Linked DNA regions of Homo sapiens. The protein of the gene in region 2 interacts with the protein of the main gene of each other region in a pairwise test. Each region holds a gene or a part of one and is shown on either strand. Other genes may lie near its edges. The genes, in order: KIZ, CEP72, CDK5RAP2 and PIN4.

The links.
Region 1: the proteins of CEP72 (region 2) and KIZ interact in binary tests that used the Homo sapiens proteins (3 or more experiments, as listed by UniProt).
Region 3: the proteins of CEP72 (region 2) and CDK5RAP2 interact in binary tests that used the Homo sapiens proteins (3 or more experiments, as listed by UniProt).
Region 4: the proteins of CEP72 (region 2) and PIN4 interact in binary tests that used the Homo sapiens proteins (3 or more experiments, as listed by UniProt).

Annotation. Positions count from the first base shown.
Region 1 is NC_000020.11:21,121,330-21,129,106, reverse strand, and holds the start of KIZ (centrosomal protein kizuna), read right to left. Parts: upstream 2,992-7,777; coding exon 2,903-2,991; intron 1-2,902. UniProt on the Homo sapiens protein: Centrosomal protein required for establishing a robust mitotic centrosome architecture that can endure the forces that converge on the centrosomes during spindle formation. Required for stabilizing the expanded pericentriolar material around the centriole.
Region 2 is NC_000005.10:650,330-654,077, reverse strand, and holds the end of CEP72 (centrosomal protein of 72 kDa), read right to left. Parts: intron 1,091-3,748; coding exon 925-1,090; 3' UTR 525-924; downstream 1-524. UniProt on the Homo sapiens protein: Involved in the recruitment of key centrosomal proteins to the centrosome.
Region 3 is NC_000009.12:120,402,134-120,409,167, reverse strand, and holds part of CDK5RAP2 (CDK5 regulatory subunit-associated protein 2), read left to right. Parts: coding exon 1-41; intron 42-699; coding exon 700-821; intron 822-1,919; coding exon 1,920-2,156; intron 2,157-5,054; coding exon 5,055-5,132; intron 5,133-6,096; coding exon 6,097-6,362; intron 6,363-7,034. UniProt on the Homo sapiens protein: Potential regulator of CDK5 activity via its interaction with CDK5R1. Negative regulator of centriole disengagement (licensing) which maintains centriole engagement and cohesion. Involved in regulation of mitotic spindle orientation.
Region 4 is NC_000023.11:72,184,743-72,191,776, reverse strand, and holds part of PIN4 (peptidyl-prolyl cis-trans isomerase NIMA-interacting 4), read right to left. Parts: intron 5,317-7,034; coding exon 5,243-5,316; intron 1-5,242.

The DNA.
Region 1 (7,777 bases), on a different chromosome or scaffold from region 2:
TATTTGCCTCAATGAAAAGCCTTTCCATGGCTTGCAATTCTTACATATTAAATCTCTATTCAGAATCTTTGAAATACCCATCCCTGGGATGCTTACCCATAGTTCATGTTTTCAGTCACCCCTCACTTGGACCTTTCAGTTTTACACAGCTAAGTGGTCCTTATCTTGCTGAGTTTTCTACTTTTAAGCCACTTGTTATTCTGTTTTTGTCTCGATACCACAATTCTATACCATCTTCAGCTTACTCTACTAATATCTCAGTGTCAGTTTCTAGACTATTATGATATCTTACTCTGAATCAATATAGGCACTGAAAAAACCGCGGCTGGCTAATGGGCCCTTTTAAAAGGATGTTTTTGTATAACCGTAAGAGCCAATTCCACTTATAAGTTTCTACCATGCTTGTGGGTGCTATACACACTGTAACAAGTCACTCCATTAGACTCTTTTAGATTCAATTATTGACTTTCACCACAATGCAGAAAAAACACTGTACACACATAGGAAAACATTCAGACGATAAAATTACATCTACGTGTAACTACAGCTAACATGACTTGGGCTGGAAATATGCTGGTTATTTGACCAGCTAACATTGCAATGACCACCTCTAAAAGGGCTGAGAAAGAGGGAGTTTTTTTTTGTCTCCCACTTCCCAGAAGTTTCTGGATTGATAAAGCAGCTGTGACTACCCAGGGTTGCTCCCTATGAAATGACTCAGGAATTTTAGGAGACAGTGGTATCTGTGATCAGTGGGATGCTTTGTGTTTCTTTGTTTAAAAAGGTACAACCAAGGCCGGGTGCAGTGGCTCACACCTGTAATCCCAACACTTTGGAAGGCAGAGGCAGGCAGATCACCTGAGGTCAGGGGTTCGAGATCAGCCTGGCCAACATGGTGAAACCCCATCTCCACTAAAAATACAAAAATTAGCTGGGGTTGGTGGTGGGCGCCTGTAATCCCAGCTACTAGGGAGGCTGAGGCAGGACAATCGCTTGAACCTGGGAGGTGGGGGTTGCAGTGAGCTGAGATCATGCCATTGCACTCCAGCCTGGGTGACAGAGTGAGACTATGTTTCAAACAAATAAACAAACAAACAAAAAGGTACATCCAAACACTCAAATTGGATACAGACAATAATATTCTTTACACATTGCTTTGCAAAACTACAGCTTTCAGCTTTTTTTTCTTTTTTTACTTTAAGGCCCATTATTCTAGCAAAGAGAGAAAGAAAAAAATCTGTGGCCTTACTTTGCATATTAGTCAAGCCCCCTCATTCCTGGTAAAGAACCAAGGTTCAGAGAGGTGGAACAACCTGCTCAAGGTCACACAATTGTTCGTGGACTAGAATCCAGGTTTTGATATTTCTACTGCAGCCTTTTCTGTATCTAGAATTATTTGCCTCTATAACTGTGTCCAGTGTGCATTAATTTGAGTTAGTTATAAATTCTTAAAATGAAAAATGAACACACACAGCAACAGATTTGTACTGACTTAAAAATAAAACAAATCTCGAAATGCAGAACCGTGAACAGGCTATAAAATTTGATTCACATTCCTTATATATTTTCAACAGCCTCACCTTGTTTAATAATTAAATAAGTGTTAATCATAAAGTACATAATTATTATACAGTTATTGTGCCATAAGGACTATAAACAGCCAGGTGTTCCTAGCACAGGAAACAAAAATAACTTACAATTAATAGTTCAAAAAGAATGCCATTTATGAGTGCTGTAAGAATGCCAAGAGTCACAAAAGTTAGGGAATGGGTTGAAACAGGGAAGGCTCTACAGGAAGAGATTTCTTTTTAAAGTCAGAAATTAAGAGGTCACTGATATGGGTGAGCGGTGACATGTCAGAAAGAAAATAGGACGTAGAAAAGGAGTACAAGGTAAAAAAAATGCTAACGACAATTAAGGAAGCCTGTTGTAGATGCTCTATAAATATCTGACAAGAATTAAATCTAGCGTAAGATAAATGTAATTCCTTTTCAAAATCGCTCACTTCTGCCTTTATTTTCCATGTAATTATTGTTATCATTTTAGCACTGTCACGCACACAGCTCTCCTGTTCACTAGAATGATTTTGTAACTTTTAACACTCATTAAATGTTTTGTTTATCAAGAGATCCAAAAATGTATTTCCTTTCTTGTCAACTAATGAGAGTTACAACTCCAATTAACTTAGCAGCTAAATAAGAGGTCCAGCAATTTATCTTTTACGTGGTTATTCATAGTACATTGCGGTATAATTTTCTCTCTATATGCACTCTTAGATCTAGCTGTTTTCAGTGGTTCCCATCTTTCATATCTTAATCAAAGGCATCATGAACCCTCTGGAAGCTGGACTTCTCTAGCTGGAAATTTCATCCCTTCGCTGGAAATCTAGCCAGCCCTCGCTACCCCTAAAAGTCTCCTGAGTTTAAACGGGGGCACATGTTTGACACACACACACACAACCGTCTGCGTTCCAGGACTTGTCATCATTGATGCAGTGCAGCTGTCACGGCGGGATGGCAATTTGAAGAGAGTGGGGAGGGGGCGTGTAAAAGGGGACAAGAGAAACTCACAAGGCTTGATGGAGAGTGACAGGCAGAAGAACTCCCACCTTCACTTCTGGGCAAATTCTGTGACGCGGCCGCATCCTCAAACCGTAGACCAGGCTTTAGCTGCTATTGACGGGGCGGGGGCGGTCTCTCACCTCTCTCCGCTCCCACCCCCAATACAGGGGGTGGCTCTAGTAAACACTGTCCTCCAGGCCCCACTGGGAGCCTGGGGGGCGTTGCGCGCGGGCCTGGGCCCCGGGGAACCTCGGACGGGGGAGCGGGAAGGAAAATGGGGCAGGGCACGCGGAAGACCCCCGGCGCGGGCCGACTCCCCACCCCCGCCCCAGTGCCCTTACCTGTCCCGCAGCCCGTGCTGGAGTTGGCCCAGCCTCTCGTAGTAGTCGGGACTCGACAGGGGCACGGCCGATGCGAGGGTCCGGCTCATGCTGCTGCCGCTGCGCCAGCTCAGCACAGCCTCTGGGTGGCCGTTCGGCCGGGGTTGCCGAAGGAGACCGCCCCACCATGCACCGCGGGTAAACACCGCGCCGGGCCGCCTGCAGGAGGCGGGGCAAGACGCCGTGGGGGCGGGGCGCCGCTGAGGGACGGGGCGGAAGCCGGCTTTGTGGGGGGCGGGACGAAGACCTGCATGGGGCGGGGAAGAGGCGTGGCAGAGGCGGGGCGTCGTGAGGCCGGGGCGGACCACGTCGGAGGGGCGGGCGCTCGGTGCCCTCTCCTCTCTCCCTTGACGCGGTGTCTCCTTTCCCCTCACCTTCCAGGATTCGCACAAGCTACGTTAATGTTACAAGGCGCATTCCCTCCCTTTCTTTCGTCTCTCGCTTGCTTCTTTTCCTCGATCTCCTTTCTTGCCAGGATTTGTTGAGTGCCAGGCACTGTACTAAGCTTGTTCTATTATATCAGCACTCAAAAGCGACACAAAACACCAAGTAAAAAAAGACAAACCCTCAAATGCTAAACAGCCGTGCTCAGCCCCGACAGTGGACCAACCCCTTACTCGAAAATCCGTGCTGAATCTAAGGATTGTTCCAGGTGCCAGTATCGTTGGCGAGAGGGAAAAGTTGATAACTAGTTGCTTGGGAAGCAGACGTTTGTGCAGACAGCTCTAAGGGACAATGCTCCTAATGTCCTGTAGGATCCTCTAGCAGGAGCCCGGGAGCCAGACTGCCTGGGTGTACATTCCCTATCCACGTCCCAGCTGCCAAGCCGTGTGCAAGTCACCCCAGGTTTCCTCATATGTAAAGTGGGAGGCTGTTAACACAGGATTAGTTTAGGATTCGATTGTTAATATGTGTTAGTGTTTATAAGTGGGCCCAGCACATAGAAAGCATCAGGTTTTATTATCATCACCAACGTCGGGAAAAAGCTTCCTGAAGGAAGCCAACCATATTTCAAAACCCACTGGGCAGAAAAATTAAGCCTTAGCCTGCTTCTCTGCCTTCCTTTCCTTTTTTTTTTTTTTTTTTTTGAGACAGAGTCTCACTCTGTTGCCCAGGCTGGAGTGCAGTGGCGTGATCTCGGCTCACTGCAAGCTCTGCCTCCCGGGTTCAAAAGATTCTCGTGCCTCAGCCTCCTGAATAACTGGGATTACAGGTGTGCGCTACCACACCCAGATAATTTTTGTTTTTTTTGGTATTTTTTATATTTTAAGGAGAGACGGGGTTTCACCATGTTGGCCAGGCTGGTCTTGAACTCCCAACCTCAGGTGATCCACCCACCTTGGCCTCCCAAAGTGTTAGGATTACTTGCATGAGCCACCATGCCCGGCCTGTAGAGTTTCTTTAGTCTCTTATTGTTCACTTCTTTTGGTTTCTTTCCTATGCCATTAATTTTACTTACACATACAAGGTGCAAGGTGTGACAAACTAAAATTGTAAGAGAGATGGAACACTCAAAGGCCAACAACACAAAACTATGATTTTACTCAGCCTTCCATTCACATTTGCCAGTTCCAGGGCAAGAGTGTGAATGGAGGCCCTCATACCATCCGCCTAAATATTGAATTATAATTCAAGATAACAAACTTAGGTAAAATACGTGTTCTCCTCTCCACTTTGACCAATATGCCTTCTTAAGAACCTGGACAACCAGGGTGGAATTTAGTTTGCCTGCTTCTCCAGCTCCCCCCAACTCCATTTCCCACCCCAGGCTCAGTCTTGCTTTGTGAGGGGGTCTCATACACTAGCAGGGATGTGTGTGCCCTGCCTCTTCTCCTCCTCTTCTCCAGCCAGCAAGTCCCAACTCTGCCTACATCCCCACCTCAGCCTCCTCTTGGCCGGGCAGTGAGCATGCCAGTGATGGTCACCCTTGCAGGAAAGACCCAGCCAAGAGGCCTTTTAAAGCCTTAGAAAGCAGCTTGGGCCCCTTTGAGCAGGGAAGGTAAGGGTGTTGGGTACTTAGAACGTGTTCTAGAAGAGCATGTGTGTGTATGTGTGTGAGCACCCCAGGTGGGCCTGTCATCTGGCCCTGGGACCTCCTTGCCTTGCGTGGAGCAGCATGGGCAGAGAAGGGCTAGAACAGAACCTCTAATACACAGAAGCCAGGGCAGAGGCCTTCTTGCCCTGGTCCAAGGGTAGCACTGATGTGACTTTTATTTAGTTTTTATTCAGATTATATCCAATTGATTCAGTGGTAATGTGCAAAGGTTTATTTTAATGAGTTTAGTGTAACTAACATTTTACTACAACCCTGGCAAAGAAAAGAAAAGCATTAAATTTTTAGGATATTTTATTTAGGACCATGCCCCCAGGGTTAGTTTTTTTTTTTAAGAAAAAGAATCCCCAAACAATTAATATAACTAATTTTAGCAAGTAGCACAGAGTAAGCAGATGAGGCAGTCATTTAGCACCCAAAATTTTTATTAGGCCATTTTAGGAGAATCTAAAATTAAATGTAATTAAACAGTAAATAGATAATTCAAAATAATTATAATTTACATCCTATGGTTGATTCATTAATGACGTATGACAAATCTAGATGTAGGATCTCCTTTATTAACAATAACACATAGCAAACAAAAGGAATATTTCTAGAGTATTTATGCTAAAATTATGCATTTTAAATGGTGACAGGCTTTCAATAAATTCTGAGTTCTTCACTTTGAATATTTAATTTGCCAGAGCCCTCTATTTTAATATTTTTCTTCAAACTCTTTATTTAGCTGAGCTGATTTCTGTAAGCAGCCCTGCTTTTAGCTCACTGGACCAAGGGTCATCAAGTCTGCCTAGATCAAGGCTTCCTCTAAGTCCTAGAATGTCTTAGCTAGAACTTAGAGGGAGTCTAGCCCCACCCCCTTGTTTTACAGGGGAAAAAGGGTTCAGGGCAGATAAGGGGCTTGGCCAAAGTCACCTAGCTGGAAATCTATGTAATATTAACGAGTCTAGTTCAAAATATGGATCCCTAGTGGTCCCATTAAGCAAACAGCAAGGGAAGCCAGTGTCTCGGCCCAGAAGTCACATGAATCTTTGGGTGAACCAAATGAAATTGTTGTTTTTGTAGCTCAAAAACAAAATTGATTCTGGAAAATATATTGAAATTAGAATTGTACATATATTCTAATATTGGGAAATTCTAATTTCAACATATTTCCATATATATGTATATATACATTACATTTACCAGTTTATTATAAGAATATCACAAAAGATACAGATGAAAAGATTCATAAGGTGAGGTCTGGGGGAAGGGGTGTAGAGGTTCCATGCCCTCCACGGGCACACCACCCTCCAGGAACCTCCTCCACATGTTCAGCCAGCTCAGAAGCTTCCTGAACCCTGTCCCCTTGGGTCTTTTATGGGGACTTTATTGGATAGGCATGATCGACAGTCGTGTAGAAGCGTGATTGGACAAAGGGGACATGATCTAACACTAATTGAGTGGGAAACCCAACAAGTCCTGTTCTGATTCATCTCGGCCTCTCAATGCAGCAGAAATTTTTTTTTTTTTTGAGACGGAATTTCACTCTTGTTGCCCAGGCTGGAGTGCAATAGCATGATCTCAGCTCACCGCAACCACTGCCTCCCTGGTTCAAGCGATTCTACTGCCTCAGCCTCCTGAGTAGCTGGGATTACAGGCATATGCCACCACGCCTGGCTAATTTTGTATTTTTAGTAGAGACAGGGTTTCTCCATGTTGGTCAGGCTGGTCTCGAACTCCCAACCTCAGGTGATCCACCTGCCTTGGCCTCCCAAAGTGCTGGAATTACAGGCGTGAGCCACTGTGTCTGGCCTGCAGTAGCATTTTATATTTTAAAATGTACACACTATGCTGCTTTTAATTAAATCATGTATATTTAGTCAATAACTGCTTGGATATTATATTAATTTGCTAGGGCTGCTGTAAGAAAGCTCCACAAACTAGGTGTCTTAAACAACATGATTTATTGTGTTTCAGGTCTGGAGGCTAGAAATTGAAGATCAAGATATCTGCATGGCTCGTTCTTTCTGAGGGCTGTGGGGAAGAATCTGCCGCATGCCTCTCTCCTGGCTGCTGGTGGTTTGCAGGCTATCTTTGGTGTTCCTTGGCTTCTAGACACATCATCTTGACCTCTGCTTTCATGTTCACATGGTGTTCTACCTGTGTATGTGTCTCCAAATTCTGCCTTTTTATGAAGGCACCAATCATATTGGATTAGACGCCCACCCTTCCCCAGTATGATCTCATCTTAACTAATTACATCTGCATTGACCCTGTTTCCAAAGAAGACTGCATTTTGAGGTACTGAGAGTTAGAACGTCAACATATGTATTGTGCAGGGGACACATTTCAATCCATGATAGATATGAAAGTAGGACAAGATTTCATTTTGCAGTCATTATGCAGACATATCCAATCTGGTAGCCATTAGCCATGGCTATTGGGCAATTGAATATGGCTAGTGCAACTGAGAAATTGAATTTTTAATTTAATTTTTATTTATTTATTTATTTTGAGATGGAGTCTCACTCTGTTGCCAAGGCTGGAGTGCAGTTGTGCAATCTCAGCTCACTGCAACCTCTGCCTCCTGGGTTCAAGCAATTCTCCTGCCTCAGCACCCTCTAACAACTGGGATTACAGGCACACACTACCACACCTGGCTAATTTTTGTATTTTTAGTAGAGACAGGGTTTTGCCATGTTGACCAGGCTGGTCTCGAACTCCTGACCTTAGGTGATCCACCCTCCTCAGCCTCCCAAAGTCCTGGGATTACAGGTGTGAGCCACTGGGCCCAGCCAAAT
Region 2 (3,748 bases):
GCGCACACACAGCACACACACACAGCTAGCACACACACACAGCAAGCGCACACTAGCGCACACACAGCACACACACACAGCAAGGGCACACACACACACAGCAAGGGCACACACACACACAGAGCTAGCACAGAGCATTTTCTTCTTAGGCCTGCTCATTCTTCCCAAATCAGTTGAACGTCATTTAAAAAATGACCTTGTCTTACCAATCACAGCAAGTATGACATAAGATATGAAGTTTCCAAACTAAAAATCTAGTTTTGTGTCCTATTATGACATAATTTTCAGAACTACACTGCAAACAAGAGAGCGAGCCAGGGCTTGGGTAGATGTTTCCGCTGTGATATGTTAATATCATAAGACAATATTTTTAAGGTTTTTTCCCCCACATCTATAAGTGTCACTTGTGTTAAGTCTTTGAACTTAATTATTCCCACTCACCTATCATGGTGCACAGCTTGTTCTATAAAAAACTCAATGACAAACTCAGTTATAATTTGTATACAGCCACTGAAAAAGTTAACTTTTCAGAACAATGTATTTGTTTATTAAATAAAGATTGCTTGTTACACAGAAAATTATTTTCTTTAATTATCATACATAGCTCTCTTTCACATCAGGCAGTAGAACACTGCATTTACTTCATCTCAGGATACTGGATACAAGATTAATAGTCAGTTTGTCTCAAAATATGTCAATGTGTTCTGTCTGAAAACATGCAGAGGGCTTGGAGTAATCATATCATTTTACGAGGTGCTTTAGAAAACCAAGCTACAGGTCCTGAATACATTCCAAAAATCCTAAATAATTACCAACAGAAGAGAGAACTCTTGCCAGCCAGTACACTCAATAAAGAAGTACAAAGGTGCAGACAATGTAACTTTACCAGGAAGCTTAAGGGGTGGCCCAGCTTCTCGGCAGGAGTCAGCAGGCCTGGCAGCCTCCATGGCTGGCGCTGCTGTGTGGAAACAGGGCCATGGTCTTCTTGAGCTCCTGGTAGCTCCAGTGCATCTGCTCCACCTCGGCTCTGTGCTGCGCCCGCACCTGGCTCAGCTCCTGCAGCAGGTGTTCATTGGTGCTGACCAGGGAGCTGCAGAACAACAGGGAAGCGGCTGCTTGGCACTTCCGTCCTCTCCAGCGGTGTGGCCCTCACCTGCTGGGCCTGCCCACCTCCCTGCATGGGCACGAAGGTGCCCTGGCCCTGCACACAGACCTATCTCTGTGGCCCCATCACCTTCTGTGTCCCACTGGCTACCGCCCACCTGCCTCCTCCTTCCCAACCACTGTCCTGACCCCTGGGAGCAGCCTTGGAGGTGCGGCTCAGCACCTATGGAATGAATGAATGAGCTGAACAGGCTAATGAGTGACTGAATGGCGCCTTGGCTATTCCAGCTACGCATGGTTTTATGAGAAGATGATAAACTTCATGGCTAGCAAAACAATGTTCTAATTCTAGAAAATATACGGGGACTGAAATAGTTCTAATTCCCAGTCAAATATAATAATTTTGACATCATAATAGTGCAATAGAAGAGTCCTAGTCTTTAATGCTGTTGACCATTTTTATTTTAGAAGTAAAGTGCTATTACATTTTACCCACTTTGTCACCTCCAAATTGCCCTAATCACCCAGTCAGCGATGACCTGAGGACACTCAGGGCATTACAAGTATTAGACAAGGCAGGGCCCACTGACCTCGGTCACATTAGCCACAGAGATGGGCACCCCACTGACAGGGCCACTGTGCAGGCCCAGGCCCTGTTCACTTGGACAGCAAAGGAGCCGCAGGCCAGGACTGGATGAAGCCAGCATGAATCCTGGGGGCAGAAGCCCAATGCCACCATGTTTGGGAGCTGTGCACCCTGCCTTGTCCACATCCAGGCCACAGTGCTCAAGGAGAATGACCCCCAACTGTACCTTGACCTGCCACAGACAGGCCCACCAGGTTCCAGGGAGTCACATGGCCCTGCCCACGACTGGGCACTGCACCCGCGGCCGCCACAGTCCCCTTCCTTCTGCTCCGCTGCATCTCCTCTTGGCCCAGTCTCATCTTTCAGGACCCTTCCCCTCTGTAACTTACACCTGTGATGGGCCCCATGGGGGTCTGTGGCCTTTATCCTGTAAGGGGCAGAGCCTGGCTACGCCTATGACCAGACTGTGGTCGAACCCAGGTAAGTGTGGCAGCCTCAGCCTGAGGAGTGGGGGAGGGAGCGGGAATGGGAGGTCGGGGGAAAGGAAGAGGGAATGAAAGGGGGAGGGGAGGGGGAGGAACTGACCACAGACCAGCCTTCCCTGCTGAGGCCACAGCAACAGGGGTTCACACAGCAGCACCCACAAAACTGCCCAGAGCGACCTGTCCTTGCCTCCTCCAGCAGCTCGCCTCTTCCTTTCTGCACCCAGCCTCCAACCACGTCCCGGCACACAATTCTTAAAAGACAAACTAAGATTCTGCCTTGAAGATCCCCTCACACCCAGCCCCCTTCTCACCATCCCCCTATAGCCAGGGAGTAAAGGTGAAATCTCCGTGTTTCCAACTGAACACGCACTGCAGTGAAGGGGGAAGCACAGCTGCCGGACTACCGCCCAGGGGAACCAGGTTGCCCCGCCGTGCCCGACCATCTCTCATGCACCTCTCTCCCCTGGTCACACTGCACACAGGTCATATCTCACAGTCCACAACTCTCAGTCCACACCTCACATTCACAACTCACAGTCCATGCCTCAGTCACACCTCACAGTCACACCTCACAGTCCACGCCTCACAGTCACACCTCACAGTCACACCTCACAGTCACACCTCACAGTCCACGCCTCACAGTCACACCTCACAGTCCACGCCTCAGTCACACCTCACAGTCCACGCCTCACAGTCACACCTCACAGTCCACGCCTCACAGTAACACCTCACAGTCACACCTCACAGTCCACGCCTCAGTCACACCTCACAGTCCACGCCTCACAGTCACACCTCACAGTCCACGCCTCACAGTCCACGCCTCACAGTCACACCTCACAGTCCACACCTCACAGTCACACCTCACAGTCCACGCCTCACAGTCACACCTCACAGTCCACGCCTCACAGTCACACCTCACAGTCCACGCCTCACAGTCCACGCCTCACAGTCCACGCCTCACAGTCACACCTCACAGTCACACCTCACAGTCCACACCTCACAGTCCACGCCTCACAGTCCACGCCTCACAGTCCACGCCTCACAGTCCACGCCTCACAGTCCACGCCTCACAGTCACACCTCACAGTCACACCTCACAGTCCACGCCTCACAGTCACACCTCACAGTCACACCTCACAGTCCACGCCTCACAGTCACCCCTCACAGTCCACGCCTCACAGTCCACGCCTCACAGTCCACGCCTCACAGTCACACCTCACAGTCACACCTCACAGTCCACGCCTCACAGTCACACCTCACAGTCCACGCCTCACAGTCACACCTCAGTCCACGCCTCACAGTCACACCTCACACCCACAGTCACACCTCACAGTCACACCTCACAGTCCACGCCTCACAGTCACACCTCACAGTCCACGCCTCACAGTCACACCTCACAGTCACACCTCACAGTCCACACCTCACAGTCACACCTCACAGTCCACGCCTCACAGTCACACCTCAGTCCACGCCTCACAGTCACACCTCACACCCACAGTCACACCTCACAGTCACACCTCACAGTCCACGCCTCACAGTCACACCTCACAGTCCACGCCTCACAGTCACACCTC
Region 3 (7,034 bases), on a different chromosome or scaffold from region 2:
CTGATCCAGGAGGTCCGCTGCAGCGGCCAGGAGCTGAGCAGGTAGTGGCTGTGCTTCCCTGGTGGCCTGCTGGCCGTACCACGCATGCAGGCACTGGGCTGCAGTCGTGGAATCAGCACGCAGGCCTCTGCCTTAGTGCACAGTGGCAGGCAGTAGACACAAACACATTGTACGTCTGGTGCGCCTACAACATATGGAGAAAGATCCTGTAAGGAGGAGAGGGCTTGGCAGTGGGTTGCTGTTTTTTGTCAAGGGTGAGTCAGGGAAGGCCTTTGTGAAAAGATGCCATTTGCTCAGAGAGCTGAATGCAGTGAGGAGGTGAGTGCTGCAGCTACCTGGGAAAGATCATTTCAGGCAGAATGGGCGCAGGCCCTGAGGCAAAGTGGCTTAGGCCTGTGCCGGACAGAGCAGGGCAGTGTATCTGGAGAGGGGGCTGGCAGGATACCAAATCACATCGGGCTGCAGAGTCAGTGTGAGGACTTTGGGTTTTCCTCTGAGTGGCATGGGAAGCCACTGGGAGATTCTGAGCAGAGGAGTGGAATTAGGATTAGAGAGCACATGGAATTCTTAACCATGCTTGTCACTTCTTGGTCCACACTCTTGTGACTGAGGGTGGAATTGGCCTGCTCTGTGGGGTTTGAATAAGTTACCCTGAGGTAGAATTAACCTGTCCTTCTCATGCCTGTGGGGCCTTCTCAGGGTGCAGGAGGAGGTGAAGTTGAGGCAGCAGCTGCTCTCACAGAATGACAAGCTATTGCAGTCTCTCCGAGTGGAGCTGAAGGCGTATGAGAAGCTGGATGAAGAGCACAGGAGACTGAGAGGTACTGAGGCCCTTCTCACCTTGAGGCTACTGTGCTTTGGGCTGTAAGACCACCCGACAGCTGGCTGTAGGCACAGGAGGGCAGAGCTCAGCCCTCTCCACTCTGGCCTTGTGGGTAGAGTGGATGGGTGTTGAAGCTAGCTCTTTGACCCACTCTTCTTCTGAAGGAACAGCAGGAAACATAGAAGGACTGAGGCTCAGCACCCAGGCCAGCCGAGGTCCGGGTTCCCACTCACTTGTTCCCAGCTATGTGACCCTCAGTAGGCCACTTCACCCTTTGAGCCCATACCTATCTCTGTAAAACATGTCTCTCAGCACCTGTTGTGTGGAGAATTGTGTTGAAAATTGAATGAGACCATTTATTAAAAGCATCCTAGCAAGATACCTGACACATAGTAGGCACCCAGGAAATGACCTTTATTATAATCGTCCTGCTAGTATATGTTACTTTTTGCCCACTCATTCAGCAAACATTTATGGACACCTCTCACGTGCTGGGCATTGCTCTGGGGATGGTTGTTGGCCTCGTTGCTCTCTGTATCCCAGGAGAGATACCAGCTCAGAGTGCTTCAACTATAACGTCTAATGTTTCAGAATCAATTTTGAGGTGTGGTGAGGTGTTTTTTTTTTTTTTTTATTTTACTAATTTTCCAGATGGTTTCTCTCTATTGAAAGTTTATCTAGAAAGGGGTCATCTCACAGCTTTTATTTTCTCCTCAACTTGCTTTTTTTATTCTTGCTGTTGTGTCTTTTTAATATAGTGTGGCTCTTAAAATCATCCCCTTTCATTCTATAATTCTAGCCCAAATAGATTTTATTACTACTAGACATAATTTCGGGGTTTGGTGTGCAATTTGCTAGGCTTTTATGGCCAGAAGCGAAAATTAATTTCCAGCTCTTATTTAGCGTGTGGAATAGCAGCAATTAAGTCTGCCAATATTTTTGTTTCTAAAGTCAAGTTGTTATTTTAAACTGTACCTAGTTCTTAGGAAGGGGGAGGGCGATGGTGGTGGTGAGTGTAAAATGCGATTGAGTTCCTTCGATGGCTGACCCTTTGGTTGTGGAAGATGTCAGGGCTTCTCTTTGCACATGTCCTCAGAGGCGTCGGGAGAAGGCTGGAAGGGGCAGGATCCTTTCAGGGACCTGCACAGCCTCCTGATGGAGATCCAGGCTCTGCGCTTGCAACTAGAAAGGAGCATCGAAACCAGCAGCACTCTGCAGAGCAGGCTCAAGGAACAGCTGGCAAGGGGGGCAGAGAAGGCACAGGAAGGAGCCCTCACTCTGGCTGTCCAAGCCGTGTCCATCCCTGAGGTGCCCCTTCAGCCTGACAAACACGGTACTGCCCCTGCCTCTCCCCACTTGCTGAGAATGCAGCTCTGAGCATCTGTGTGTGACATGTGAACTTCTGAATGATGCCTTTGCCCCACAGAGGTGTCTTTCCATTGATAGCTGACATGCTGTACCCTAGGAGCCAGGGGACCTGACTGCTAATTAATTAGCGGTCACCTTGGGCAAAGTGGCGTAATCTCCATCTGAGGCATCTTGATTCTCAGGGAAGTGGAATTTGGACTTCCAGACACCCTCAGTGCCTCTGGCCTTGCTCCCTCCTATCCATTTAGTCCTGCCTGCATCACTTTGATGCTGAAATTTCTTTTAGTTTCTCTTACTGCCTTTAGAAGGGAACCTAAACATCTTAATCTGGCTTTCAGTGTCTTTCAGGATCTGAAAATCATCCTGATAGGTTTAAAAAGTGGATCTGTTTTGCATTTGTGTGCAGGTTAATTGCCTAGCCCTGGAGAGGCTGTGGGGGGTACGAGAAAGAGGACCAGACACCTCTACCACCCGCCCACCCAGGGTGTGGAGCAAACCAGTAAATGGTTAGACTCCAAGCAATCAGGCAGCCTGTCCTCTTTGCTCTAGAGATGAAAAACAAAGGCCCAGAGAGTGGATGGGGCTTGCCCAAAGTGGCACAGCAAGTAGGCAGCAGAGCTGGAGCTAGAAACCATTTCCAGCTTCGAGTCCAGGGCTGTTCCTAAACCCCACTGGACTCTCTGGAGCGTTGGGTATCCTGGGATTATCATCCTGACACCCATAGGGTAAATGTGTGTATCCAGTGGGATGAGGAATGCCAGCCTGCTTTACAAGCAAGTATTGTACTAAAGTTTGGACTGACTTTTACTTGGATACCTCTAGTTAAAAAAATAAAAATAAATCTCTTAAGGAGCACCTGGTCAGTCCGCTCGTAGTGATTAGTTCATTGATTTCTCATTGACAAGGATCTTAAAATTTAATCAAAAAGATGATGTAATAATATGAAAAAAGTGAACAGAGAAAAAAAGTTCATGATTCTACACATTGATCATTTTTTAAAATTTGCATATTTTTTCATTTATTAAATATGAGCATGAATTTATATTTTTCAAATTGGATTTTGTGTCATTGTGTGTCCTTTCTTTGTTTTTGCCCAATATTACATCATACATGTTCCCTGTGCTTTCACATGGGCTTCCTAATGATTGTTTGCAGGCTATTCTCAGTCACCAATCCATGACCCCGTTGATTTATTAAAGTGGTCTCTGATTTGGAGCCATAATAGACATCAATGTTAATATGCTTTTTGCTGTTAAATAATATTCTTAGGAGAAAACCCTACAAGGGGAACCTCATAAGTTTGGAAAGGTGCCATATTGCCACCTTCTAAATAGTCTGTACATCAGCAGTGTACAAAGGTAGTGGTTTTTGTGTGACCTCAGCATTGGGCATTACTATTTTCAACACGGGTCTGCACCTGGCCCTTTTTAAGGCTTTGAGGAGATGGGATTCAGGAACTTGTGGGGTAGGCTAGGGGAGTTTGAAGCAGGGAGAACAGTTCTGTGCTTGGGGTACCCAGGAAGGAGAGTTGGGTAGCTGAAGTGAGGAGGCCATCAAACAGCCTTTACCTGCTTTTGAAATTTGCCGAAAGCAGCCCTCATCATGCCTGGCAAGAGGCATCCAGGAGAGCATTCAGAATTCACAGTGCTGCCTCAGCAGAAAAGTTTTATAATTTCCTTGAGTCAAGATCAGAATTATAGGCAGCAGCATTTCTTCCTTTGCAAAAGACTTCTCAGGTCTGTATTTAAGTGCATCTGTTTTAAAAATTCTGTTCTAAAGGCTGATGTCTTTCACTGAGAGTGATTCCTCTTGGGGCCAGCTCTATGGAGCTGACCTCCTGGCTCCTTGGCCTTAGGAACTGTAGCACACCCCTGGGAAATGCTGGAGTGCAGTCAGCCCACCGCCCAGTGGTGCAGGAGCTCGGAAGGGGGATCCTAAGCCCTAGGCTTCCTTGCTCTGTGCCACTGACATGCTGGGTTATGCTGGACAGATCACTTTCTATCTCTGCCCCTTGGTCTCCCCTTCCATGAAATCTGAATTACAGTGTGTTTTGCCCACTGAGCTATTGAGTCCAATAGCTTTTCATATGTGAAAGTGCTTTCCAAATTATAACGTGTTGCACAGGTCATCTGTACAGCATCTATTGGTTTTGCCTCCTTACAGTGTTGCAAATACATCACCCCCCAGATCCTATTGTGGGTTACTCTCATCTCTAGCTTAGGTTAGTGTGGCAGCCTCCAGACTTACTCTTTCAGTACAAAATACAGACCTCAGCTTGACATTGCCTTGCCCAAAGCCCTTGAGTGGGCCCCTCAGTCCTCTTGGTTCTGGCCTTGCATTCTACTTTGTCCTTCCCTGCACCCGGGCCTTGGGTCTATGAACTGCTTATTTCTCCCTGAGCGATGATTCCACTCTTTGTCCCACTGTCTGCCTCTCACCTGCCCATTGTGCTGCCTGGCATTTCTTTCCCTCCTTCTTACCATAGGTCAGTCACAATCAGTCTTAAAACATAAGGTTTTAAAACGGGTATTAGCCTTTGGGAAGCCAAGTTGGGGGTAGTGCCCCTCACCTGAGCCCCAACAGCCTGTGTTTCCCTCCCTTGTCCTTGATCACACTAAAATAAAATTGCTTATTTACTTTTCTGCTGAGAGTTTTTCTAGGGAATGGACTGGGCCTGGTCACTCTGTCTCCCTGGTGTCCCACAAAGGTGGGCTTGGCAGGACAGAGGCCCAGTGAAGATTTGAAGGAATGCTGTGTGTGTATGGATAAGTGAATGTGAGGGGCTTGACTGTATTCTCTTTCAGTTCTCTCTTGAATGCTGACAACAGTGAAACTAACAGTTCTCGTGTTTTGCATTTTGTAGATGGTGACAAATATCCCATGGAAAGTGATAATTCATTTGATCTGTTTGATTCCTCCCAGGCAGTGACACCAAAATCAGGTACAAAGCTGAAGTCCAGGTAACTGTGGGAGCATTGGATGTGACAGTAAGACTTTTTAACTTGCAGAAAAGGGGGGTCCCTGGTCCCAACTCAGGAGGGTATTTGGTAAGGATTTGGGATTTCAAGTTCTCAGCATCCCCAGCTGGTGATCTTCTCCTTCAAGCCAGTTAATCCACTCCTAGGTGTTACCAAGGTTAGAACATCATTGGGTCCCTCTTGCCTTAGATTAAAATTGTGACCACCTTTGTGAGGCTTTCAAGGCCCTCCAGGATCCAGCTCCAGTGGGTCCGTCCAGCCTTATCCCTTAACCTGGTGTAGCCACACAGGGGTCACCATCCTGCAGACAGGCCCACACTTTCCTCTCACTGTGACTTTTAGACCCCCTTTGTCCCACTCTTTGCCGGTAGAAGTCCCGTTTCCTCAAGACTCATCATGAATACACATTTCTCTGTGACATGCCTTTGCTGCTGTCCTTGGTCAGAATGACTCATCATTCGTGTAATTCTTGCTACTTGCTCAATCCAGTTCAAATGCTGCTCCTTCTCAGAAGCCTTCCCTGTTCTCTCCCTCCCTGCACAGATAATTGTTTTTTCTGGCTCTGGCCCTTCATCACTCTGCTGTTGCACCTTCTGCAGTGTCTGTGTTCTGATCAGACTGTGGGCTACTGGAATGCAGGCACCAGCTTGAGTCATCCTTGTGAATCTGGGGTCTTCTGCCGAGTGGGTGGTTGATAAGTGTTGGTTGAGTTGACTTGAGCCTCTCCTACAAGATGACTCATAAGCCCAGTGTGGGGTAATATACAGAGGTCCAGGAGCGTGCCTCTTTTCCCCTCTGGGCTTGTGTTGGGTGGCATTTGGGCACGAGGGCCTCTTCTAGCCCTCCTAGCTAGCTTCAACATCATAAGCGTCTTGAACGCAGAGTGTTACCTGAAACAGATTTTACATCCTACTTCTCATTTTACAGTTTCAGAGACTCCTCCACTCTCTGGGAATGACACGGACTCCCTCTCCTGCGACAGTGGCAGTTCGGCAACTAGCACTCCGTGTGTGTCCCGCCTGGTCACTGGCCACCACCTGTGGGCCAGCAAGAATGGCCGCCATGTCCTGGGCCTGATTGAGGACTATGAGGCCCTGCTCAAACAGATCAGCCAGGGACAGAGGCTCCTTGCTGAAATGGACATTCAAACCCAAGAGGCTCCCAGCTCCACAAGTCAAGAGCTGGGAACAAAGGTAACCTGACCACAGAGCTGGGGGGCACAAGCTGCTCCCTGGGAGTGTCGGTGGAAGGGGGAGGGGAGTCAAATGGCGCAGTTGTCCTCATTAGGACCCTGAGAAGAGGGACCAGGAAGTGTGGCCTCAGAGAGCTCAGAGGTCAGGTCCAGTGTGGGGAACTATTGGTGGTGGCTGTGTTTGGTGGGGTTTGTGCCTTGTGTTCCTGCAACTGCTCCATGGGCTCTGCTGTCTTGTTCCCATGACGGCCTCTGTACATCTGGTCTCTCATCCATTCTTCTCTCCATCTGCACCCTGGTGTGTCTGTCCATTCATCTGCCCATCCACCTGGCTGTCGCCCATTATGAAGTGGAATTACTAGTTCAAAGGTTGTGAACTTTTTAGGGCTCTTGATGATAACTGTTGCTCCATTACTTTGCAAAACAATTCTATCTCTGTTCATGAACGTTTGTCTCACTACATTTTTGTTTTTGTTGAGGTTTTGTTGTTGTTGTGTTTTTTTTATTTTGAGACAGGATCTAGCTCTGTCACCCAGGCTGGAGTGCAGTGGCGCGATCATGGCTCACTGTAGCTTCGACCCCACCTCCTAGGCTCAAGCAATCCTCCTGCCTCAGCCTCCCAAGTAGCTGTGACCACAGGCGTGTGCCATCACACCTGGCTTTTAAAAAAAAT
Region 4 (7,034 bases), on a different chromosome or scaffold from region 2:
GAGGAGGTAACTTTGTTGCTAGGGGGCTGAAAGCCAATGAGTTCCTGACAATGGGTCTGGTTTCCACTTTCTTGTTAAAATAATAAAAACATTTAAAAGTTGATGAGTACTTATCTCATTAAATCCTCACACTAACGCTGTGAGACTAGATGAGTGTTTCTTAACCCTGGCAGCATATTAGAATCACCTCCAGAAATTCTAGAAAAGTTTTTCGTTTTTGTTTTTTGAGATGGAGTCTCACTCTGTCGCCCAGGCTGGAGTGCAGTGGCGCAATCTCAGCTCACTGCAACCTCCGCCTCTCGGGTCCAAGTGATTCTCCTGCCTCAGCCTCCCGAGTAGCTGAGATTCCAGGCGCATGCCACCATGCCCAACTAATTTTTGTATTTTCAGTAGAGACAAGGTGTCACCATGTTGGCCAGGCTGGTCTCGAATTCCTGACCTCAAGTGATACACCCACCTCGGGCTCCCAAAGTGCTAGGATTACAAGCATGAGCCACAGAGCCCAGCCCTTCTAAAAAAGTTATCAAAGTCCAGGCCCCCCTCCAAGAGATTCTGATGCAGTTGGTCTGGGATGAGACCCTAGGCACTCGTATTTTTTTAGGCGAATCTGATGTACGTCTAGGGTTGAGAACCATGGAATGAAGTTCTCTGTTGACTGATGGGAGTGGGGTGGTGGATGGCTACAGGTGGGCGGTAAAGGATTGCTGAGCAGCACTGAGGGCCTAGGTAAAGTCAGAGACCAAGTATTAGTAGTCCCAATCCCCAAGGCTGTGTGACTTTCCAGTAGGGCCCAGCAGTTCTGGGGAGCTTTTTTTTTTTTTTTTGAGATGGAGTCTCGCTCTGTTGCCCAGGCTGGAGTGCAGTGGTGTGATCACGGCTCACTGCTACCTCTGTCTCCCAGGTTCAAGTGATTCTCCTGCCTCAGCCTCCCGAGTAGCTGGGATTATAGGCACCCGCCACCACACCCGACTAATTTTTGTATTTTTAGCAGAGACGGGGTTTTACCATGTTGGCCAGGCTGATCTTGGACTCTTGACCTCAGGTGATCCGCAAGCCTTGGCCTCCCAAAGTGCCAGGAGTACAGGCATGAGCCACCGGCGCCCGGCTGAATTTTTCTTTCTTAAGTAACTGTTTCAAATTTGAGCCAAGCTACTGAAATAAGTTCATCTATAAGCAAATATAATACTCATATTGGAATTATTAGTAAATACTTTATTTACATACTTATTAAAAATCAAGTATTAATATTTAAGTTGCCCCCAGCTAGACGTTTTCAAGGAAATCTTTTCTTTTCTTTTCTTTTCCTTCCTTTCTTTTTTATTGATGCATAGTAGATGTACAGTTTCAAGGTAATGCAATAATCTAATACATTCATATAATTGGTAAAGATCAAATCAGTATACTTGGAATATCCATCACCTTAAATATTTGTCTTTTCTTTATACTAGAACCACTCGAATTCTTCTCTTCTAACTATAGATCTAATTTTAAGTGCATAGAAAGTAGACCATTGGATTGATCCTGAGTAGCAGGGAGGTGGATGCAGGGAGGTGGCCAAAAGAAAAACTGGACCTCCTCAATCCAATGATCAAGCCCTTAGGCCTAATTTTGAGTGTGCAGGGGATAGGAAAACAAACATGAAGCCTAGGAGAAAGTGGGGAGATTAGGGTGGGCTTGAGGGCTTGGGGGTCTGTGAGGAGAAGAACAGAGGAACAGGATTGGCGGAGGCAGGAAGGGAAGGGGAAGGAGGGAAGCTGTGGTCAGTGGATGGGTCTCAGAATCTGCAGAGCTTATAGCGACAAAAGGGCAGGGTGTGGGCACAGGGGTGGGGTCTGAAGCAGAATGACAGAATGTGAAAGGAGCTGAACCCTAAAAGGCCAGAGGGTCCCAGGGTCCCTCACCGACTGGTGCCTTCAAAAAACACTTGAAACAACCCAGCTGTCCTTCAACAGGTGAATGGTTCGACATACTACAGCACTTCCACATCATGGGATACAGGTTGAATATCATTTATCCAAAATGCTTGGGACCAGAGTGTTTCGGATTTGGGAATATTTGCATTAAACTTACCAGTTGAGCATCCCTAATCTGAAAATTCAAAATCTGAAATGCTATAATGAGCATTTACTTTGAGTGTCATGTCAGCGCTCAAAAAGTTTCAGATCTTACAGCATTTTGTATTTTGTATTTTTGGATTAGGGATACTCAACTGGTACTATTTAGCAATACAGAGGAATAAACTATTGATAAACAAAACCACCTGAATGAAATCTCCAGCGAATTATACTGGGTGAATAAAACCAATCCCAAAAGGTTACATACTGTATTATTCCATTCATATAACATTCTTGACATTATAAAGTTACACAAATGGAGAACAGATAAGTTGCTGCCATGGGTTAAGAGGGCAGAGGTGGGGCAGGAGGGAAGCGGGTATAGTTATAAAAGGCCAAGAGGAGGGATCCTTGTAGTGGTAGGATTGTCTGTATCTTGACTACATCAATGTCAATATCCTGTTTGTGCTATTGTACTATAGTTTTGTTAGGTGTTACCATTGGGAGAAACAAAGGAATACGTATTATTTCTTTTCCTTTTTCTTTTTTTCTTTTTTAGAGACAAGGTCTCATTCTGTTGCCCAGGTTGGAGTGCAGTGGCGTGATCCTGACTCACTGCCGCCTCAAACTCCTGGGCTCAAACAATCCTCCTACCTCAGCCTCCCAAGTAGCTGGGACTACAGGCACACACGACCATGCCCAGCTAGATGTATTATTTCTTAAAACTGCATGTGAATCTATAATTATCTCAAAATAAAAGGCTTTATAAAAACAAATTTAACCCTAATCTACTTTCCTAGTGAATAACGTGCCACTCCTTTCCATATATCTCATGAGTGGCCACATTGAACTTATTTTTTTTCCAGAGAGGGTAAGGTGCCTCTTTAAAGCCACATGCACCAGGTGTGGTGGCTCATGCCCCTATAATCTTAACACTGTTGGAGGCTGAGGCGGGAGGATCGCTTGAGGCCAGGAGTTCAAGACCAGCCTGGGCAACATAGCGAGACTCCATCTCTACAAAGATAAAAACAACAAAACAAAGTTTTTAAAAAATTAGCTAAAGCCGCCAGGCACGGTGGCTCATGCCTGTAATCCCAGCACTTTGGGAGGCCGAGGCAGATGGATCACCTGAGGTCAGGAGTTCAAGACCAGCCTGGCCAACATGGTGAAACCTCATCTCTACTAAAAATACAAAAAACTAGCTGGGCGCGGTGGCGGGCACCTGTGATCCCAGATACTTGGGAGGCTGAGGCAGGACAATCGCTTGAACCTGGGAGGCGGAGGTCGCAGTGAGCCGAGATCGTGCCATTGCACTCCAGCCTGGACAACAAGAGTGAAACTCCGTCTCAAAAAAAAAAATAAAAAAAAGTAGCTAAAGCCATATGCAGTGCAACAGTCTCTTAGGTTAGATGCTTGTGAAAACATATTAGGTGAAAACTGCATATAGCCAAAATTACCCTAGAATATCCCTTTATGAAGATGTCATATGGGAGACCAGCATGTCAGCTCTCATTTAAGCCCAGACATAGCCAGGAACGCTGTACTCCGTTTGTAACATGAAGTAACTGGGTTGTATTTAGGGGCTATGTTTTATGAAAACTTATCTTTGGATACCAGAACCCCACTTCACATGATTGGATGCTCACACAAGAATTCAGGGCAACTATAGAAAAGCAGGTGCATGTCTCTCATCTCTCTCTCTCTCTGTGGGGCATAGGTTCATTGAATAGAAGAGTGGGCAGAACAGTCCACACCATTTACATGATCTCTCTTTTTTAGGCTACACATGTATGGCTGAATTTATATGATGCAGTTCCACTGCTATGCTTATCATACAGCAATGAAATACATATCTTTACCTAACTGCTCCCAAGTAGCCTGTGATAACAAGGACCATCTCTTACTTTTTATTTATTTTTTTGAGACAGGGTCTCGCTCTGTTGCATAGGATGAGTGTAGTGGCACAATCATGGCTCACTGTAGCCTCAAATTCTCGGGCTCAAGCGATCCTCCCACCTCAGCCTCCTGAGTAGCTAGGGCCACAGTTGTGCACCACCACGTCTGGCTGATTTTTTATTTTTACTTTTTTAGTGACAGGGTCTTGCTATATTGCCCAGGCTGGTCTCAAACTCCTGGGCTCAAGTGATCCTCGTGCCTTGGCCTCCCAAAGTGCTGGGATTACAGGAATGAACCATTGTGCCTGGCCCATCTCTTACTTTTTTATTAAATAAATACATGATAAAAAATCCCCAGAGCCTAATACATTGCTTGGCACAGGGCAGATGTCACTAAGTCCTTACTGAATGAATGAATCAAAGTACAGCCTCCCATATCCTGACTAAAACATGGAAATTGCCTTGTTACATAGCACTTACTAGTTTGCAGATTAAATTTTCTCCCAGCAGATACTCCTCTGGGGCTAGGTTAAGTATTTCAAGTAATTATTTGCTGATTTTCTCCTGCCCCCATTTTCATGGTCAAGACCCTGGTTTGTGGCTCACCAGTGGGGAAGCTTTCTAAAGAGACCTGCACCCTTGCCTGTTTATTCAGCAGAGGACTTTTAACACTTATCTAATCTCTTGGTTTTATAAAATATTATTTTGTCCTAAGAAATAACTCAATTACTGGGAAGATCTAACTTAATGCATTTTAAGGAACAATACTAAAAAACTATAAAGAAATTCTGGGTATCTGAGAAAGTACATGACAAAATATTTAAAGGGAATTACTTTTCATAAGCAAGACTGGTCTATATTTTCCATTTTTTTAAAATTTATTTTTATTTATTTATTTTTTTGAGATGGAATCTTACTCTGTTGCCCAGGCTGGAGTGCAGTGGTGCAATCTCAGCTCATTGCAACCTCAGCCTCCTGGTTCAAGCGATTCTTGATTCTCGTGCCTCAGCCTCCCAAGTAGCTAGGATTACAAGTGTACACCACCACACCAGGCAAATTTTTGTATTTTTAGTAGAGACAGGGTTTCACCATTTTGGCCAGGCTGATCTGCCTGCCTTGGCCTCCCAAAGTGCTGGGATTACAGGTGCGCCCAGCTACAATTTTGTGTTATTTTGATTTTATACCAGTGTTAGGCTAGCCTGTTAGAATGAGTTAAGCATTCTGTCTTTTATGTGTACTAACACATAAACAGAATTTATATTTAACATGGAAAAAAAGGAACCAGTAACTCACCTTTACTGCATTGCCACCACCTTTGGGACCTTGAGCCTTCTTGTCAGCACTGTCACTCCCAGAGGCTGCTCCCCCTTTAGAGAAGAGATGACAGGTACTCATTTAAACTGCACCTCCATGTTTACAGAAAGGTCCAACACACAACCGGAGTGGATATTTCCATCATAACGCCACACTTCAAAAGGGAACTCGGCCAGACACTTTACAACAAGGGTATCCAACCTTTCAGCTTCCCTGGGCCACAATGGAAGAATTATCTTGGGCCACACAAAATACGCTAACACTAATGATAGTTGACAAGCTAAAAAAAAAAAAAATCACAAATAAAAATCTCATAATGTTTTAAGAAAGTTTGCAAATTTGTGTTGGGCTGCATTCAAAGCCATCCTGGGCCGTATGCAGCCCGTGGGCCGTGGGTTGGACAAGCTTGCTTTACAACATCAAGCTAAATTAATCTGACCCATCTTTCTTCAAACAGGAAATCTGTGCCCTATATAAACCCTTCACAGAAAATGGATACACAAATGAGTGTGCTAATAGGTGAATGAAAGCTCCGGAAGCCTGGCCCAGATTCTTTGCATCCAATTTAACACCCTGCCTTCTGAGGGCAGACTCCTAAGTTCTTGTAAGAGTTCTATCATGTACCACAACTATGTGTTCAAGCATCACAATTCCAGTAAGTAAAATCTCTAAGAATACATTTTTTAAAAAGATCAAATTTCCCACTACCCATTTTTGGCTAAAGAATACATTCATGTCCAAATTTCTAGAGTCTACTACATTGCCTATTGATGTCTTCCTAGAACCATTAGCAGCATCTTACATTTTACTAGTATGTCATTTTACTACTATGGTAACTTCTGTGTCAATGGCAGCCTACATACTGCTAGAGGCTGATGTTCCTAAGAATTACAGTTGAATTAAGGGCTCAGTTCAATAAACATTTCCTATACAACTACTGAGTTCCAGGCACTGGGAGTACAAAGATGAACAAGCCATGTACCTTCCTTCAGAAAACTCATATTCTAGTGAGGAAGACGGATCATTTCAGGAGAATGCAGGAGATGCAGAGATGGTTATGGACAGGGGGCTGTGGAAGCACAGAGGGACACTGGAGCCAGCCAGGGAAGGTTTCCTGGATGAGTAGGAGCTGGTTAGCCAAAGAAAGGATGAGGAGACACTCCAGAATGGGGGAAACGACATGGTATGTGTAAGAAATTGTATGGATGAAGCCAAATCTGAGGTGGGAGTGCACTCAGATGAGCCTGCCTGAGGGAGGTAGCTGAGGGTCAGGGCATTGAGGCCTTTTGGCCCCATTAAGGAGCTTGGGACTTATCCTAGACGTAATAGGGAGCCATTGAAAAGTTGTTTTTTTTTTTTTTTTTTTGAGACGGAGTCTCGCTCTGTCTGTCGCCCAGGCTGGAGTGCAGTGGCGCGATTTCGGCTCACTGCAAGCTCCGCCTCCCGGGTTCATGCCATTCTCCTGCCTCAGCCTCCCGAGTAGCTGGGACTACAGGCGCCTGCCACCACGCCCCGCTAATTTTTTTTGTATTTTTAGTAGAGACAGGGTTTCACCCTGTTAGCCAGGATGGTCTCGATCTCCTGACCTCGTGATCTGCGAGCCTCGGCCTCCCAAAGTGCTGGGATTACAGGCGTGAGCCACCGCGCCTGGCCGCCATTGAAAAGTTTTAAGCAAGAGTCTCCATCTTGCTTGTCTTAGTATCTCCAAGCCTAGCACAATGCCTGGCACACAAAAGGTGTTTTAATAAATGTTTGATTAAACTGAAAACCC